2 separate regions of the Homo sapiens genome follow, and region 2 is linked to region 1. Evidence: fine-mapped expression QTL. Tissue or cell type: whole blood. Region 1 holds a variant in brackets; the other region holds the start of a gene. All regions are shown on one strand. Distances are between the middles of the regions.

Region 1 (10,161 bases):
TGCCCCAGGAAGGTCACATTGTAACTTAACCCCAGTTATTAGCATAGAGGCCATGGGTAGAGGTGAGGTCAAATCCTGGGAAGGTAAGACCTGTTATCTTACAGACTCTGCATTTTCTTCCACCATGAGGATAAGAGGTGGTGTGTGTGTGTGTGTGTGTGTGTGTGTATGAATTTGTGTGTATGTGTGCACGTGTGTGCACTTCTTCAGGCTCAGAAATTTGGGAGGAGAATGGGGAGTTAAAATATAATAGAGAAATCCACTCAGACATCATCATCCCATTCGGAGACATCCACCCAAATAGCAAAATCTCAAAATGTCTTAACAAAGGTCCTGACCTTGGCATAATAGACCTGACTTTATCTGTCATTTAACTATCTTTGCAGTTCTGTCACTCCAACATTTATATCATAGACATGGTTCTCGGCTTCCTTTGCTCTTCTGTTGCAGGAAATGAGAGCTTTGATGCAACCAAGATCATTTGGTTTTCACCTTGCTTTTCGATTGCCTTTTACTCACCCTCATCTGTTCTTTATCTTTATGCAATGCATCAATAACATTTATAAACAGCCATTCTATACTAAAACTCATCAGTGTATCCCATCCTACCAGCACCATCCCAACTCACCCCTGTAAACATTTTAACAGCTGGACTACCATTGTGCATCCAGGACAATGTGTGTTCCCCCTACCACCAGTGACAGGGTCCTCATTTAACAGGACACTGATTAATCCAAAAACCTCATCTTATTGTCCACTTTATTGGGCCAGTTTTGATATCTCTGATCTCAATTTGAGTTTCTCTGAAATGGAAGCTGAGACACTATAGGGTTCAAGAGGTTTATTACGTATCAATACCTGCGAAAGGAAAGAAGAAGAACTGTTGGACAGAGGGCGAAGTTGTGATGAAGGCTCTCCAAAGCCTTGGCTAACTCAGAGGGAAACCTGGCAGTGATTCATGCCTCTCCGAGTTGTTCCTCATCAGGCTGAGGTATGTCAGTGCAGCTGAGATAGACCCTAAATGATGGGACAGATGAAAGCCATCTGCCAACTGCACTGTGTATCTGGGCAACAAATTACCTTGAAGGGAGATATAGGTGGTACAATGTCATGTATATACTGGGGTAGAAAAAGCTGTCTAAATGGCATTCTACCTTCTGTCTCATTTTTTTGTAAAGCCAGAATTAAACAAGTCCAGACAGACAAGAAACTGTCTTAATTCTAAATGACCTTAGTAAAGAAAATTCTAAAGTGTATTACCTTCTATTTCAAAACTGCGCTAAGGTAAAACTATGCTTGTTCGAAGAGAGCAACTTTTTGACAACTGGTTCAGAAAACATTTATTTTTCCTTCCTGTCAATGCAGAGAATTATAAGGCTGAATACACTGTGAGTGTAATTATCCAGACTCTTATTGTTAGGTCAACCATCCTGGCAAACTAAGCACTCTGTGTGCCCAGAGACAATCTTTCTTTTAAGAACACCACTAAGTTCCTGCCTAAAGATAGGTAACAGCCTTTCCAAGTGCAACAGAGATTTCATGGAGAAAAAAAAAATGTCAAAATAAATAAATAAATAAATAAATCTACATAAACTGGTGGGTTTTATGAATTTCCATTGTGATTTTCTTTCTACTTCTGACTTTAGTATCAAGTATTCTATATGATTGTTTCATATAAAATAAGGACTACTTTAAAAATATTTACTCCCAAGTATTTCAAAAATCATAACTCACTCTCCCTTTAGGGAGGATGTTCCAGCTAAGAATTTATACCTTGGGTTTTATAAATATAATTTCATTGATTGGGTGGCATTTTGTAATGCAGAGATATTTGTAATTTTTAATTCTTTGTGATTCCATAGCATATGCGAACATCTCTATTTTGTTCAGTTCTGCCTAAACTTTATGTTACTACTATGTGGCACTCATTACATTAAGGGCTGGGAATACAAAAATAAATAAAATATAGACAACACATTATTAGCTGCTCATGAGAATGTTATGTCCAAAATTAAACTGGGCTTGTAGTATACAAGAGAGTGTACATGGCACCCTGAGGTTCTTTCATTAGGAGACTTACATGGAAGAAGTAAGAAAACTTCATTACCTATATTTTATGCAGACCTAGATTCTGTATATTTTATACTGGTCTGTGATTCCTGTGTACATGATGAGACATGAATCTCTGTTATGTCTCAGATGTAGATCTCTAGGCTGGTCTTCTTAGGGTTCAAGTTGGCATATCAAAGGGTCTAATCAAAAAAGAACTGTGGGAGAGCCTGTAGCCAGATCCTCACTACCCTCAAGTTCTTTGGTTCTTGATAGGAAAGGAGAGAACTTTTGTGCCTAGTGTGTCTTGAACCAGAGCCTCTCTCAAAAACAAGTGTAAATGTTAATGGTATAACACAAATTCCATCATGCTTTCTACTTTTTTATATATTATGAGTTAACACATCTATTCATAGGAGTTTTGGGTCATTGATGTTACTGAATTTTCTATTTGGAGCTACACACAGATATAAAGAAATGGAAAGGAAGTCATTCATGCATCTTTTCTGGAATCAATTATCTCAGAGTCTGACTGATTAGTATCTTCAAATGCTATCACAGTTGATTGCAGAACCTTGAGAATAAAGGTATAGGTGGTGCAGGAACAATTATTGTTCTTACTGTGAACTCTGATTTTTTTTTTTCAGGTTTCAGAAGGAAGAGCCTAAAGGAAAATGTAGGTCAAGTGCTTTTATCCTGTGAAACTTTTAGAAGAGCAATCATAAAATCACAGTGACTGGCCCTGATTTTCAGTGATGGAAAAAGAAGAGCAATAGGTGAAAAAGCAATAGACAAGTATTTTTAAGTAGTATTTTAAAATATATAGCAGCAAATATAAGTTTTTTTAAAATTAGGAATATATTTGATTGATTTAGTCTAATTTGACTTTGGCTTATTAAATTTGGCTTTCTATGTTACTAATTCTGGTTACTATCATATTAATGTGTCAAAGTGGGAAAAGAAAAAACTAAAACATATGTTTGTAAGGCATCATGTTTAATGTGCTACAAGTCTCTAATTAACATACAACCCTTCACAAAACAATTCTTTCCAAGCCTGTAAATGTTTAAGAGGATAGGGCTGCTTTGCTCATTACTGTAATTATTGTAAAATCAGGTTTACTAAATTTCTTATTTATAGGTATTATATTAATTTTAAAAAATTATTTATAACAATTTAAAGTACCCTATTATCTCAAAAGCAGATCTTTCTTTTCTAAATGAATTTATATTTCAAGAATAACGTTATTTTAGTTGGGACAGTATCCATTTAGTTAATATTATAATTAAATATCTAATGAAACTTTCTATTGTATTAGAATTGGCTATGATAAATCTGTAATTCCAATACATTAAAATTGTTACAAATATGACTGGAGTATATGTGTGACCTGAAAAGGCAGGCATATCTTGTTTTATTGTGCTTCAGTTTATTGCATTTTGCAGATGCTGCATTTTTACAAATTGATGCTTTATGGCAACCCTGTGTCAAGCAAGTCTATTGTGGCCATTTTCCAACATCATGTGGTCACTTCCTGTGTCACATTTTGGTAGTTCTCACAATATTCAATCTCTTCACTATTATTATGCCTGTTACGGTCATCTGTGATAAGTGATCTTTGACATTATTATTGTAATTATTTGGGGGTGATACAAACTGGACCCACATAAGATAGTGAACTTAATAAATATTATGTATGTTCTGACTGCTCCACTGACTGGGTGTTCCCCCATCTCTCTCCCTTTCCCTATTCACTAAAACACAAGAATACTGAAATTATGCCAAATAATAAATCTACAGAGGCCTCCAGGTGTTTGAGTGAAAGGAAAATTTGCACATCTCTGATTTTAATTCAAAAGCTAGTAATAATTAAGCTTAGTGAGGAAGACATGTTGAAAGCCGAGACAGGCTGAAGGCTAAACCTCTTGAAGCAAACAGTTAGCCAAGTTGTGAATGCAAAAAAAAAAAAAAAGTTATTGAAGGAAATTAAAAATGTTACTGCAGTGAACATACAAATGATAAAAACATGATACAGTCATTGCTGGTATGGAGAGAGTTTCAGTGGTCTGCATACAAGATCAAGCCAACCACAACATGCCCTTAAACCGAAGCCTAATCCAGAGCAAGACCCTAATGCTCTTCAATTCTCTGAAGGCTGAGGGAGTTGAGGAGCCTGAAAAAGAAAAGTTTGAACTTAGCAGAGGTTGGTTCATGAGTTTAAGGAAAGAAGCTGTTGCTATAACATAAAAGTGCAAGGTGAAGCAGCAAGTGGAGATGTAGAAGCTGTATCAAGTAATCCAGAAGATCTAGCTAAAAGAACTGATGAAAGTGGCTATACTAAACAGTCTTTCAATGTAGACAAAACAGCCACAGTGGTCTATTGCAAGAAGATGCTGTCTAGGATTTTAATAACTAGACAGGAGAAGTCAGTGCCTGGTTTCAAATCTTCAAAAGACAAGCTCTCTTGCTAGGGGCTTATGCAGCTGGTGACTTTAAGTTGAAGCCAATGCTTATTGACAATTCTGAAAATCCTAGGGCCTTTAAGAATTATGCTAAATCTACAGTGCCTGTGCTCTGTAAATGAAAAAACAAAGCCAGTATGATGGCACATCTGCTTACAGCATGGTTTACTGAATATTTTAAGTCCACTGTCCATATCTATCCTTTGAAAATATTACTGCTCATTGACAATGCACCTGGTCACCCAACAGCACTAATGAAAATATACATGGAGATTAATGTTGTTTTTATGCCTGCTAACACAATATCCATTTTGTAGTTTATGGATCAAGGATTAATTTTGATTTTCTATGACTGACACTTTAAGAATACATTTTATGAGGCTATAGCTGCCATAGATAGTGACTCCTCTGATGGATCTGGCAAAGTAAATTGAAAACCTTCTGGGTAGGATTCGCCATTCCAGATGCCATGAAGAACATTCATGATTCATGAGAGGAGGTCAAAATATCAACATCATTAAAGGGTTTAAAGAAGTTGATTCCAGCCCTCATGGATAACTTTGAGAGATTCAAGACTTCAGTGGAGAAAGTAACTGCAGATAAGGTGGAAATAGCAAGAGAACTAGAATTAAAAGTGAAGTCTGAATATCTGACTGAACTGCTGCAATCTCATAATAAAACTTGGATGAGGAGTTTCTTCTTATGCTTGAGAAAAGGAAGTGGTATACTCC[TG/T]GTGAAGATGCTGTGAACATTGTTGAAACGACTTCAAAAAACTTTCAAATATTACATAAACCTTGTTGATAAAGCAGCAGCAGTGTTTGAGAATATTGACTCCAGCTCTGAAAGAAGTTCCACTGTGAATAAAAATGCTATCAAACAGCTTCACAAATGATAGGCAAATCTTTCATGAAAGAGTCAATAAGTGACACACTTCATTGTTTCATTACTTAAGAATTTGTCACAGAGACCAGAACCTTCAGCAACCACCACTCTGACCAGTCAGCAGACATCAACCTCCAGACAGGACCCTCCACGAGCAAAAACATTATGACTCACTGAAGATTAGATGATACTTAGCTTTTTTTTAGCAATATAGTATTTTAATTGAGGTACTTAAATTGTTTCTTAAATATAATGTGATTGTACATTTAATAGACTATAGCATATTATGTACATAACTTTTCTATGCACTGGGAAATCAAAAGTTCATGTGGCTCACTTTAGTGTGGTGGTCTGGAACTGAACCCACAATATCTCCCAGGTATGACAGCAGCACAAAAATTGTCGGGCTGCAGTAAATTTTTTGGCACTGACTTCAAATTTGAGCCATGTCAGGACATTTTATTTGAATTTTTGGAATGCAAAATGTTTATGAAAATGTTCATGAAAATGTTCTAGTTTGAAGTAATATATTGCATTGTAAGATTTTATTAATTGTAGTGTAATGTTTTGAAAATAGCTTGATTGGGAGAGAGGTATGTGTTGAAATTTGAGGGTATCAAATAGCTGGTATAAACGGAAATGTAAAGGGAGGGACAGAGGCTATATGAACTGGGAAGGCCAGTCATATTTGTTTTACTGATTTCATTATTTTGCCTTTAACTGGCCCAGTAGACAGATATCTGGACACACCTCTTAGAAAATTTGGTGCAATGGAGGGGAGAAAAGGCAATACAGAATAAATGGAGAAGTATTGGGAGAATCACTCTACCTTATCTCTTAGGGTCCCAACTAATTCATTAGAGAATGAAGGTGTTGGACTTGTTCAGTGGTGTTTAACTATAATGTTTCCACACAGTAGCATACCATAAACAGTTATAAAATGTATCACAAGACATTTGCTTCCTAAGTAGTGGGATAATGTTTTAAAGTGTTACGAGATTTTTTTCCTTATCAGTATTTTTCTTCTGCCATGATGATTAGTTTTTGACATAAGGACTTGCCTTACCAATGAGAAGAACAAATACTACCAAGGTCAAATAAGACGTAAGACTTAAGAACAGTTTCTACCATAAAAGAATGAGAAATATAATGTTCTTTTTATGCTGGGGGAATAGATTGCAGGGGTGGATGTGGGGAAGAGGAGAGAGAGGGAGAGAGAGAGTACCAAGTAGTTAGATACAGCATCTTAGCTAATTGATCCTCTGCCCTTCCTTGGGGTTAACTTTTGGAGAAGGAGGAATAGAAAGTACCTGACAAGATCAGATTAATACTTTCTTCTCAAGAAGAAAAAATAAAATAAAGGAGTGTTCTTAGAATTCTGCCCGTACTTCCTCCCATCAGGTATTTTGAGTGAGATAATCAATGCTTACCCTCACATTTGGTGACACATTTGCTCACCTAGGTGTCTTTAGGACTAAAATAACACAGTGTAGCAGTCTTGTAGGAACTAAGAGCCCAGAAAAATAGATAGAGATTTACTAGCATCAAGAATTACCTTCCCTACTTCTCTTCCAACTGCTCATGGCCAGTGAATTTTAATCTCAGAAGTGACTCTTAAAGCTGCTTGTCTCTGCTGAAGGAAAAGCCTTGGCCAAAAACTGTTTTGGTAGTGTTCCCAGTGCTTGGGGCTCTTCACCCAAGGATGCATCCATCTTCACTATCCTGCACATTGAGACTGTCCATTCTACAGGTACACATAGGTCAAGCTGTAATATCCATTGAGAGATCTAATCATACTACATGCAGCCTTCAGCTTCAAACCTAAAAGTACCCATCACCTTTACTAGAAACAATCATCTCTTTTATCCCTTGTAAGAAAAAAATAATGTGTGGGAAGTTTTCTTTGCTTGGAGGTGAAAGCTACAGCTACTTACAACTATATATATACATATATATATATATACACACACATATATATACGCACATATAGTTGTACATATGTATACATATACACCTATAGTTGTAAGTAGCTATAATTCATTTATTTTGATTCTTGTTTCATATTTTATGTTATAAATAAACAATGTATTGTATCTTCCTTCACACAAGTTATCAGGACTTAATTATAAACTCTACTAATAAAGATAGTATGTAAGTGGCACAGGGATAGAAAACTGGCTGATGAAATAGAACAGAAAATCAAGAAGTAAGCTTATGCATTCACATTTAGGTACAGCAGAAGTGGCCTGTCTTATCAGTAAGAAAATGTGGGAGGATTCAAAAAATGGAACAGGAAAAATGGCTATCTTGCAAAAATAAAATCATCTCCAGATAAATTAAGGACTTGAATATTAAAAACAAACTGTGAGCATCTTAGTAGAACATATTGGTGAACATATTTTAAGCACAAAAAAGCACTGACAATATTTGACAATATTAAAATTAAGAAATTTGGCTTGTCAAAAATAATCCTAAGTGAAAACATGTTATAAATGGGGAGAAGTAATCAGCAATAAACACAGCCAACGAGTACATTTTATGACGACTAGCTAAAGAAATACAAATTAGTAGATAAAAATCAACAACTCAAAGAAAAAAAATGGGGCAAATGCATGAAAAGGCATTTCACATCAGAGGAAACACACATGGCTAGTAAACATGTTATAAGATGTTTAACTTCATCCAAAGTGAGGGCAATGTAAATCAAGACTACTATGAGGTTTCACTTTAGTCACATTATATTGGCAAAAATTTAAAAAGCTTGAGTGTATGCAGTGTTGGAAGCCATATACACCTTCTATCTCTTATAAATTGCTTGCGGGGCTGTAAAATGCTACAACCACTTTCACGTTATCTTATCAGTTTAGATGTTGACATATTCTATGAACCAACCAACAATTCTATCTATAAAGCCAAGGGAAACTCAGATGCATGTATACCAGAAGACATGTACAAGAATGTTTATAGCAACACTGTTCACAACAGCAAAACCTTAGAAACAACATGTATGCTCATCAACAGGAGAGTTGATGAATATATTGCATATTTATATGATGGAATATGGAAAAACAATTTGAACAAATTATAGCAAAATTTATTATATAAAAAACATGGATAGTATATTGTGAAATGAAAAATTATCCTAAATTGTTATCCATACTAATGTATCCTTTTTAATAAAGTTAAAAACAAATAAAATAATATACTCTATTGAAACATATAAGTTAAAAAAACATAAAAAGAAAAGTAAGAGAATGATGAACTCAAGAATGCAGATAATGATTTATTTGGATGAAGGAGAAGAGGAAGCAGGTGTGATGGAGGAAGCAGAGGTGAAGGCCATAAGGCCAGAAATGAATTACAGTCAAGAACTTGACCTTTATTTTGGGTAGTATGTTCACAAATGTTTATTAAATTAACGTGAACAATCACATAACTTTCAATAACATATGCATACATACATAAAAGAAGGCCACGTGTGGATCAATTCGATTACTGTTAATCCAAGTCTAGGCACTAAGATCCTTAAACATTTTAGAAAGTAACATGTTTGCTCATGCTGGTTCTCTAAGTCTTTTAGAAAATCAAAATTAAGGGCGGTTCCAAGATGGCCGAATAGGAACAGGTCCAGTCTACAGCTCCCAGCGTGAGCGACACAGAAGATGGGTGATTTCTGCATTTCCAACTGAGGTACCGGGTTCATCCCACTGGCACTTGTTGGACAGTGGGTGCAGCACAACGAGCGTGAGCTGAAGCAGGGCGAGGCATTGCCTCACCCAGGAAGCACAAAGGGTCAGGGAATTCCCTTTCCTAGGAAAGCAAAGCTGTGACAGACAGCACCTGGAAAATTGGGTAACTCCCACCCTGATACTGTGCTTTTCCGACGGTCTTAGCAAACGGCACACCAGGAGGTAATATCCTGCGCCTGGCTCAGAGGGTCCCATGCCCACGGAGCCTCACTTATTGCTAGCACAGCAGTCTGAGATTGAACTGCAAGGCAGCAGCGAGGCTGGGGGAGGGGCGCCTGCTATTGCTGAGGCTTGAGTAGGTAAACAAAGCAGCCAGGAAGCTCAAACTGGTTGGAGCCCACCACAGCTCAAGGAGGCCTGCCTGCCTCTATAGACTCCACCTCTGGGGGCAGGGCATAGCCGAACAAAAGGCAGCAGAAACCTCTGCAGACTTAAATGTCCCTGTCTGACAGCTTTGAAGAGAGTACTGATTCTCCCAGTGTGGAGTTTCAGATCTGAGAATGGTCAGACTGCCTCCTCAAGTGGGTCCCTGACCCTCAAATAGCCTAACTGGGAGGCACCTCACAGTAGGGGCAGCCTGACACCTCACACGGCTGGGTACCCCTCTGAGACGAAACTTCCAGAGGAACGGTCAGGCAACAAAATTTGCTGTTCAGCAATATTCGCTGTTCTGCAGCCTCCACTGCTGATACCCAGGCAAACAGGGTCTGGAGTGGACCTCCAGCAAACTCCAAAAGACCTGCAGCTGAGGGTCCTGACTGTTAGAAGGAAAACTAACAAACAGAAAGGACATCCACACCAAAACCCCATCTGTACGTCACCATCATCAAAGACCAAAGGTAGATGAAACCACAAAGATGGGGAAAAAACAGAGCAGAAAAACTGAAAATTCTAAAAATCAGAGCACCTCTCCTCCTCCAAAGGAATGCAGCTCCTCACCAGCAATGGAACAAAGCTGAACGGAGAATGACTTTGATGATTTGAGAGAAGAAGGCTTCAGGCAATCAAACTACTCTGAT
Region 2 (10,161 bases), 53 kb before region 1:
TGTACAGAAATCAACACTGAGCCTTAGAAAAAATAAGACAGCTTTTCAAAGAAGACACTGCTAGTCATGAGAAACACAGTGGAATTCAAGTCTTCTGGTGTCAGATCCACTGCTTTTTCTATTTATTCATGCTGCCTCCCAGTGGCACTGGATTAGTTTCTCTTGGGAGATTTTTAGAACTAGGATCTTCTCTCTTGAGGACATTTAAGAATAGATACAGCAACTGTATCTGTTGAGTGATAATCCTTTTTTTAAAAAGTAACTTTTATGAAGGTTTAGATGAAGCTAAGGTTTCCTAAAATATGATACTTATTTCTGAACCAATATACACTGACAAATGTCACTCTACTACTTGCTGAATATGAACATTACATATTTGATTACATTGGCCAATTTGTTCACAGAGTATTAATCATATGAAAATAAGCCACTCAAAGCACAAACGCACCATGTTCTTAGGCTGTCCACCTATGTCAAATGAATACCTATCCATGCTTTTACACTTTCCAGAAACGAAAGGCAGTGAAGTTGCAGCGAGACACAAGATGCATTTACAATTTAAGAGACGATAATAAACTGATGACTCGAACTCCCTAAAGACCCAAACCCACCTTCTAGTCAATTTTTGTATAAAATTAAAAAATAAATGCAACAATCTTAGTATTTTAAGACTATCACCCACTTAAAAGTAAATTATGGACTGACCATTATAAAGTAACTGTAAATTAGCATGGATTTAATTCTGAAGGAAATATTTTAAAGGAAAAAGAGGGAAGAAGAAAAGGAAGGAAGGAAGGAAGGATTTCTTTAGAAGCATAACAGAAAAATCACAGAAGTATATGCCATTAGATGGGTAAGCCTGATACCTGGAATTTAACCTTTCCCTCATATTCTCCCTTAATTTCCTTACCCCAAACCCTTTTTAAATTTAATTTATTTTCTTTCAGGAAATACGGTATTTTATGCTTGAATAGTTTTTAAAGTTATTAACATCAAAGTAGCCCCTAAACCATAAAGGGAAGAGGCTTGGTGACATATTTCAACAAAATTATAAATACAGTACTCAGAGGTTGGTTGAGGGCTATGACAAAGAGAAATATTTACATAAATTGAGAAAATGGATTTTTTTTCAATCTAACATGCTTCCTTAAGGATACAACACAACCAAATTGGAGAATCAGTAACTGACAAACCTCTTTGCATATAGTGACCTCCTCTCCTTGTACTACAGGAAAACATTTCCACCTAGAGTCCTTTCACAGAATATCTAGAGACCAAACGAAATCAACCATAATGACTACCAGAGCCAGATCATAATCAGTTTTTAATTGAAGTATCAAGCCAATTAATTTGTGACAACTTCCTATCACTTCTTATTCTTGACATGAAGTTGCAGAGGACTCAAATGGTTTTCTGGTCCATGACAGCTGTGGAACATTTTAATGTTTGGTCTCTTTTAAAATCACATTTATTAGAGAGGAAAGCATCTTTAGAGATGGAGTCCTAAAACTGACTCGAGATTACAAACCAGCCTCACCAGTTTAATTAGATTAAATGTCAAGAAAGAAAACTTCCCTTATACATCATATACACAGAGTCTTAATAGCAGATCTTCCTTTGGTTTTAGAGGTGTCTTTCAGAAATACATTTGAGCCCTAAATATGTATGTCTTTGTTAATTTAATTCAACAAATAAATGATTAGTGTATATATAAGTTGTACCTATATTCAGATGAGTATCACTTTTTCACACCATAAAAATTTCTAAAATACTGTATTTTAAGAACACAAACGATCCTTTTTGGGACTTCATCAAGATATATATTCTTGCCTTCCACACAGAGCATCATCCACTATAATACATGAATGACAAACTTTATATAAATCTTCCCTGAGATAATGCTATGTGTTATTCAGCAATGAAAAACATCAATAAATTGTCCTGCTTCCATTCCCACTACAGTAAAATTATATAAAAATATTAACATATATGTACCTTAATCAAAAATAATAGATGCCTTACATAACTAAACCACTTCTGCCATCAATAGGCAATCCATTCCATTTAAATTCTTAAGGTGAAATACCTGGCAGATCTCAAAACATTTTACTGGTTTTGAACAGGAAGTACATTTTTTTTTCTTCCTCACACTCCAACTGTATTGGGAGTAACGCATGCTACTGGGTGATGGTGACAGAACCCTAAAGAACATCTCCTTCTTTTAAAATGTTAACCACTGCTTCTAATTTCTGAAAAATATTTTTTGCCCTTTCAGTATGTGGCCCAATATTTTCACCAATGATGGATCTCAGCTTCTATTCAGTATTCCTGGAATATTCCACACCCGATGGTAATTTTTGGTCTTCCTTTAGTATTATTCTAAATATTCGTCTTTGTTAAGAGCCACCTTTCCAAGACCCTGAAACTGCATTACTGAGTGTAAAATGACCACATATGGTATGCACAAACACAGCACAGCACGCTGAAAAATACATACATTACCGGCTGACAGACACGGGGGTAATCACACCAAGCAAACACAATAAGCACTCTTTCATTTATTTATTTATCTATTGCTTAGACACACTCATCAAACATATTCAGTGCCCACTGAGCCCAAGGCAGTACACAGCACAGATAATATCTGTTAGGTGGCTTCAGCAAACTGGATTATGTCAAAGTGTGAAATGTGAAGTGAATCTGACTTCATCAAATAAACTGAACTCCAAGGCCATTTCCCAGCACTCACTCCCCCACCTCAAACACACAAGCTTAACTTCGCCCTCCTTCCTCTTCTGATGCTCAGACCATGACTTCCTTCTCATCCTTCTCTTCTCTTCTCTTCTCTTCTCTCTCTCTCTCTCCCTCCCTCCCTCCAAGTATTTCAGCAGCTTTCCTCAGTTCTCTGAGCCAATCCCTCGGAAAAGGAAATCAGCAAAATGCTGAATGGGGAGACTTCACCAGCAGGTGAAGAGGAAAAGAAGAGGGTGTGGTACTCGTTTTCTCCACCACACCCCATCCCTGGAGTCTTGCACTCCAGTCTACTGCGGCTCAAAGCGGGCACAGCAGGTCCCCTAGCTCACCTCGGAGCAGCCTGGCCCAGACCAACCACCCAGCGTTCTCCGCAAAAAACTTCCCTTAAAGCAGCCAAATATTCAAGGGAGGCGGGGGAAATTGGGCATTAGTTCGAATACACATACAACAGAGCACCACGGAGCAACACTGAAAGGCACCTTTTTTAGATACAGACCCTATAGACTCTCTCTCACCCTTCACTCCCTCCCACCCTGAGTATCTGACTGAGAATTTACAGAGAACCAAGAGGCGAAAGGAGAGTGGAGGAGAAAGAGGGCATTACCTCCCGGGGCTGCCCTCAGGGTGCGGGTCAGGATCTCATCCCCGAAGTGGCTCCAGTTCAAGGCACAGCTTTCCAGAGCTCAGCCGGGTTCGGACCTGCGTCCCCGCGGCGCGGTGCGGAGCTCGGAAGCGCGCCGGGACTGCCGCTCACGTCCCCCGCCCCTGCCGCGCGGGCTCCGCCACCCCGCGAGCACGCTGGCTCTCCGCGCTCACCCCGCCGCCTCCTGGCGCCCCCACACCCACCCGCTCCGCGGCGCCCGCTGGGAGCCTCTAGCGGAGGCGAAGGGAACAGCAGGCGACCTGCGGCGCCCAGGTTCCGACGCCGGTTGCAGGGAGCCGGCCAAGCGGCAGCGTGGGCTTCGCGCGCCCCCGAGTCCGCAGGCCGGGTGCCGCCGCCGCCCCCACCTGCCCACCTGCGCCAGGCTCACCTGCCACCGCGTCCTAGTTGCGTTCACCGGTGCCCACAGCTCTCTATGGCAATTGGGGGTGGGTCTGCGGTGCTAATAAAAATTTAAAAAAAAAACCTCTCTGGTAAAAAAACGAAAACCCAAAACCCAAATCCACGCTGTATATCAACCTCCACAGAGAACCCAGTCCGAAATCGTTTTCCAATAGGTTTCAGAAAGTGTGAGGACAGGACACTCCTCTGGCTTCCTGCCTCGCAGCTGGGCAGCGCCGCACCGGCTACTCCCTGACTTGCCAGGCGGGTCGTGCGATCGCGTAGCGACGCCCGGAGAGATCCTCCTAACTTGACTTAACCCCCACCCCATCCCCAACATCTATTTTAAGTTATTGTCTCTGGCAATTCAAGCAGCAGCTTTGCTGCCTCTTACCTTGAGGCGCTGTTAATTCTCCTTCGTGTCCTTAAAATCCCAAGCCAAGGATGCGACGCACACAAGTCCAGGGGCTTTTCCTGGACTTCCCCCTCCTCAGCTCTGAAGGCTCCTCCTTTCCAAGGGATCAGGAGGGGATGGCGGTTCAAAAGCCCTCACCATAGAGGCGCCTCCAAGCCTTCGTACCAGTGGAAATGGAGACCGGGACCACCTTCCCGGCACCCGGAAGCCTCCCAGCCCCTCCTGGGCCAACTTGGCTGCCTATTCAGTTTTCTTCCGTAACCCCACAGACACGTCAGTCAATTCCCTGGCATCAGGCAGGATATTCTCAGTTGCGGCCGCTCCTCTTGCTTTCTCTCGATAATGCCCCTCCCCCCTTTCTCCCCTTAATTTGGAAAAATTTCTACTCCCTGCCCGAATTAGGTGGGGATGAGGCGGAAAGGTGTAAGAAGAGCCACTCCAAGGCACAGCTTCGGAACACCGTCTCCCTGGGCTGCTGCAGCGCGAAGGTGTCTACGCTGGGGAAACTTTCAGGGGAGGCAGCGCCGGTGCGGGGCTGGGCGGGCGGCGGGCGGCGGCGCCAGGTGAGGAGGCTTTGAGGAGGCGGCTGCAAGGCGGGACGCAGGATAGCCGGCTGGGGCTTGGCAGCCGGGCTCAGAGCTCGGGCTGCGCACACACACAGGCGCGCACACCCGCGCGCGCGCAGCTACACACGCACGCCCAGCCCTGCGCCCGCGGCCCCCGGCCAGTGGCGAGCGAAAAGTCGGGAGTCCTGAGGAGGGGTAGGGGTTCCAAGGATGCTGATGACAGAAAGAGTCAATCAATCCTCACTAGTTAGCGGATTGCCGGCAGGCAGTTCCTCGCCGCACGCCGTTAAGTCCGTTGGGCCACCTCTCCGTTCTCTGCCCTGTCTGGCATTTCAACTCCCTAGCTCTTTTCTTGAAGCCAGTTACACCCCCTCGACACCCAGCGAGAGGCCACCAGACTAAAGATGAGCCCCGTTCCCATCGCCACCCTCCAGGGGCCACCTCCGCCCCTTCTGTAGTGGAGAATTGAAGTGGCTGCAGCAGCTCTCCTGGGAGCTGAGGGGCTCCCCGAGGTCCTTCGAATAGAGGAGCCTACACATCGCTTCGTGAACATAATCCCCTCGCATCCCGTCTTTACCTGCCCACTCCCTTCGTAACATTTCCCCCAAGGAGCTCCCGAAAGTCGCTTAGATGTTTTGAAAATGAATTTCTTAGGGAATTGTAGTGCCTAGCTTTTGGAACTGGGTTAATTTAGGTGCTACGCTTATATTGTAAACTGGACGGTAGCAGGTGAACGGCTCAGCTGGAGAAAGGGGAGGGATTAGGAGTCTGGAGACCCAACCCCTTTAGCAGCCATTTCCAAGGTTTTGCACCAGGAGTAGCTGTCCGGGTCTCTGGCTAGCTCCTGTCCCAACTTCTTTTTCTTCCCTCGACGGTCGGGAGGGATCACTGGGTGCTACACCGCTGGGGCGTCCCAGGCAGGAGAGACTTCGCTCTCAGAAGCGCCCCCGTGTCATCCACAACTCCCACGAAAGGAGCTTCCCAAGAGGAGTTTGTTTTACCCGGAATGGGCTGCAGGAATTAATTGCTTACAGAGAGTAAACTTTTGCCCGTTGTTTTTTTGTTTTTTGTGCTTTTTTTAACCAAAGCTTGCATTTGTGCTCCGCGTAGTTTCTATTGCAACAGAGCGCTACTCTGCCTTTTCAACTGTGAGACAGAGGATTGCTGAGGATTTCTGCCCTCTGGGGCTTCGCGAATATCTATGGCTTCGGACCTGCTAGCGGAAAACGCAAAGTTGCCCAGCTTGGAGATGGCACCAGGTTCCTTTGCTCTGGCGCTGGATGCTCCGCTCCGCCACCCACCGCCGCCGTCTCCATCGAGAATCTCCTCAAAATCAAGGGAGTTCTTGACTGTCCCTCTCCAAATTGGAAGGCGGTTGACTTTGCCGGGAACCGAGTTCCTGAGCGGCAAACGTGGAGTCGCAGAGCGCAGAAGTGAAGATTTAATACAAAAGATGAAACTTGTAGGATGACCTCTAGCAGCGCTACTCACAGCTCTGAAATCGATCCAGAGCATTCCACAGTGAGCGTTGCGGCTCCCAGGGGCTCCGGACCGGTAACTTCAGGCGCAAGTCTGAATTTCAGGGATGAACCTGCTTTGGATTCTGTTTGAGCCGACTCAGTGCAGAGGCAGTGACAGGGGCTGTGGGTTTAGGGGTGATGGATCCATGAAGGCTGCCACTTGGAGCGAGCAGACAGTTGGCGATACCCTCCCACTAACTTGCTCCGCTGCTCCGGGCTGTTCACAGACAGACCCACGCGTAAGGATTTAGAGTGTGTATGTCCAACGCCCAGACTTAACTTCTGGTGCAATTAAGGGAAGAGCTTGAAGCTAACCCGCGCAGCTTGCCTGAAGAAGTGAATAATGAAATCGGTGATGAGGTGCTAAGGAATAAAAAGAGGCATTTTGTTTGCGTGTGTATTAGTTTGCCAGGATTGAGTTTTTAGGTTTGATGTCCTAAAATGTATCTTCGACAGTGACTCTTTTGCAGCCTTTCAAGAGGAGGATGTTCGGCAGTATTTTGGAACCTGGTATGAATCTATACATTGTCTGCGTGCCGCAATATTTGATGCCTCTTCGAGTTCTAATTCTTATTCCTAATTAATAAATGACTGTTCCTGATAATGAAGTGGGAATAAGAATTATAATAAACTATTTCCAACAAAAGGCCATCTTTAACTTATGATTTCTGATTGTATAAGCCTATCAATTACCAATAAAATATTCTGCAGACTATTAGGCATGAATTGCAGAGCTGTAATGAAGAGACTCACTTGGTTCAAGAAAATTCAGAATTTAGAGCGACTCCTCTCCAAAAAGGTTGTGACTTCAAATTCCTTTCTTGGTTGCTGTTGGTATGCAGGCCACTGTCTGCAACTGAAGTTTCTGTTTAAAGTAAACATAGGTTATTTACATATTCATTAACTTTAATACGTGAAGGGTGCCTTACAGTGGTAGGAAATGTTGTGGAAAGTCTTGTACCAGCCATGGCGAAGTCTTTTTACTTGCTTTGAGTTTTTGATGTATGCGATGTGTATGCAGTAGTGGTAATCCATAGCATAATATTCTTGACATTTAAGCACCCTCAAAAAAAATAATAAAAACCTGTAGATTTATGGATCCTGTTCAAAAAATGGAAGAGGATAAGGATCACCCTTTTCCCCCTCGCCTTTTACATTTTGCTTTTATGGGGGAAATTATTTAACAAACAAGGAGAGCAAACCTCAGGATCAGAGGATGTACCCCATTCCCGCTACCCTTAGGTCTATCTATGGAATTGAAAAGAAACTATTGAGACTCAAAGATACTGTCAGATCCAAGAATCTGATTTCACCACCAAATTAAAATAACTACAGCATTATTCCAGTGTTGTCTATGTATTTATGTTTTCTGATAATTGAATTTGAAATATATGATATCTCTTCCAATGGAAACATCTTGATCCTTTTCCCTCCTTAAGATCATTTCTCTACAAACTGCCATTTTCAGAACACCTTTTACTTCTCTAGAGCATAGCATTCAGTCTATTGGTGTACTGTCTTTTCATAGATAAAAGCTATTCTTTCTTTACTGGTATGCCTTTGCTACTGTACTGTGAGCTCTGAGAGCACGGATCTTGTCATTTACATTGTTGTTCCCCAGAATCTATACAGAATCTAGTACACAATAAAATAGATGTATATGATGATGATGATGATGATGAAAGCGACCATGTATTGAGTAATGACTTAATGACTATGTAATGTGATTTATGTACATTATATCAGTTGATCCTGTTTACAACCTGCTTACCTAAATTTTATGTCCTCAAATTACAGGGAGATTGAGGCTTATGCAAATTTACCTAAGGTGACAAATCTGTTTTGTCACAATTAAGTATGGAACCTACACAGTATCTTTCTGACTCTGAAGCCTGCACTATTCATCATTTTGCTCTGTTCAAATAGCCAGGTCCCCACATTTTCAATTATTCAAGGCTAAAAGGAATTTATATGTTGTTAATGCTAAAAAGAGGCAAATTTAAAAATGAGTTCCTTACCTCTCATGCAATCGAGTCAATATCTATTTGAGTATCAAAACACAGGACCAGTTTACTTCTCTTATTGGGTTAAAATAGGAGAGTGTCTTCTTGGCATTATTTTCATGGGAATGCCAAATGCTGAGTTATGGGTTTCCTTTCAGAGAGGGGAGTCAGGCCATTGGGAATTTTATGGATATAGAAAACTTTTTATTGTTTACTTCCATGTTGATACTCTTATGTAAAACAGAGGAGGCTATTATAAAATCTCAGTTGTGTAAGATGAATAAATTCTAGAGATCTATTGTACAATAATGTGCCTATAATTAACCATACTGTATTATACACTTAAAAATGTATTAAGAGGACAGATCTCATGTTGGCTAATTGCCACAATTTTAAAACTAATAAAAATAAAAGCCTCAGAACACAGACAACACTGAATACAGAATGACATAGGAACATGCCATAGAAATGTGTTATAGTTGTCAATTTCAACAGCTCATATTATAAAACATCTTTTATACCTTGGATCATTACAGTACAAATACAAAATATCCATATCATGGAAGATTAAGCTGCTATGTAAAATAATGAGGAAATTCTCCTTAATTGGTATAAAAAGGTCTCCATGATATTTTTAGGTGAAAATTGCAAGGTGAAGCAAGGTGTTGTCTCCAAAAATTAATAAAATTGGTTGGGGTCATGGTGTAAGTGGGCAGATGGTATCAAAGGTAGAGGTTAGACTTTTTATGTTCTTTTGATTTTGGAACCGTGTGTAAGTTTTACCTTATAAAATAAAAGAGTGCCTTTGAGGGGTTGCATGGAAAGAAAAGTATAACAGATGTATCTCCGCCTTTTACTTAAAAAAGATGTTTGTTGCTGTTGTTGTTGTTGTTTTTAAAAAGGGTAGGTGAAAGTTGTGAAATAACCTGGCCTGCAATACATTTGCTCATTTACTCCTGCCAGGGAGAGACCTTGAGGGAAAGAAGCAAAAAGGGGTTTCTTAGTTCAGACTACTGTAACAAAATACCACCGCATGGGTAGCTTAAATAGTAGGAATGTATTTCTCACAGTTCTGGAGTTCTGTGAGAAACATTTTTCACAGTTCTTGGAAGGCCAAGATTAAGATGCTAGCCAATTTGGTTCTTGGTGATGGCTCTTTTCCTAGCCTGCATACAGCTGCCTTCTAACTATGTCCTCACATGGCCTTTTCTCAGTGTGTGTTGGGGGGAAGAGAGAAAAAGAAACAGAGACATTTCAGCCACAGTTTATATAGCAACTAATCCTATCATGAAGGTCCCACTCACATGACCTGTCTAACCCTAATTACCTCCCAAAGGTCTCATCTCTACACACCACCACATTAGATGTTAGAGCTTCAGCACATGAATTTGGGGTGGGAAGAAGGTACAACGTTTAGTCCATAACAAGTGAGCAGGTCTAATCTCCTTGTCAATTCTACCTCCCCTGGGTAAATAGACTAATGGTATTTGCTAGAAGGAAGAGGGTTGTCTTTGGGCCCTTAGTAGGATATCTGACTAAGGATTACCTATAATAGATAGAACCAGAATTTATAAGGGATGGCTTCCTGGAAAATGGCATATAGTGTTTGCAGTGCTGGGGTATAAAATGGAGATGTTTTATAATTGAAGCATTACCAACTGTATGAGGAACCATGCACGCCTCACTTGGAGGCTTTATGTATTCTGGGCTAAAGAGATGTGGCTTTCACAGGAAAGAAAGACCTGCAGAGCCATTATTTTGAAACTTTTGATAAGCCTTTTGTTTGTACCTTTGAAATTATTTAGTTTAGGCTAATACTGCTTATGATCTCTGATTCATGTTAGTCTGATTTGAGAAATTC

What was found.
Region 2: LINGO2 starts here. The variant in region 1 is fine-mapped to the expression of LINGO2 in whole blood (TOPMed, PIP above 0.99).

Annotation. Positions count from the first base shown.
Region 1 is chr9:29,261,235-29,271,395 of GRCh38, forward strand. No RefSeq gene overlaps it. Among named protein-coding and RNA genes, the nearest start is that of LINGO2, 53 kb to the left of the region's middle. The variant TG/T (reference allele first, on the strand shown) is at 5,243.
Region 2 is chr9:29,208,732-29,218,892 of GRCh38, forward strand. It overlaps LINGO2 (leucine rich repeat and Ig domain containing 2), which reads right to left and starts at 4,870. Exons shown (of 7, transcript NM_001258282.3): 1 at 4,191-4,870. RefSeq lists a silencer at 3,461-3,510.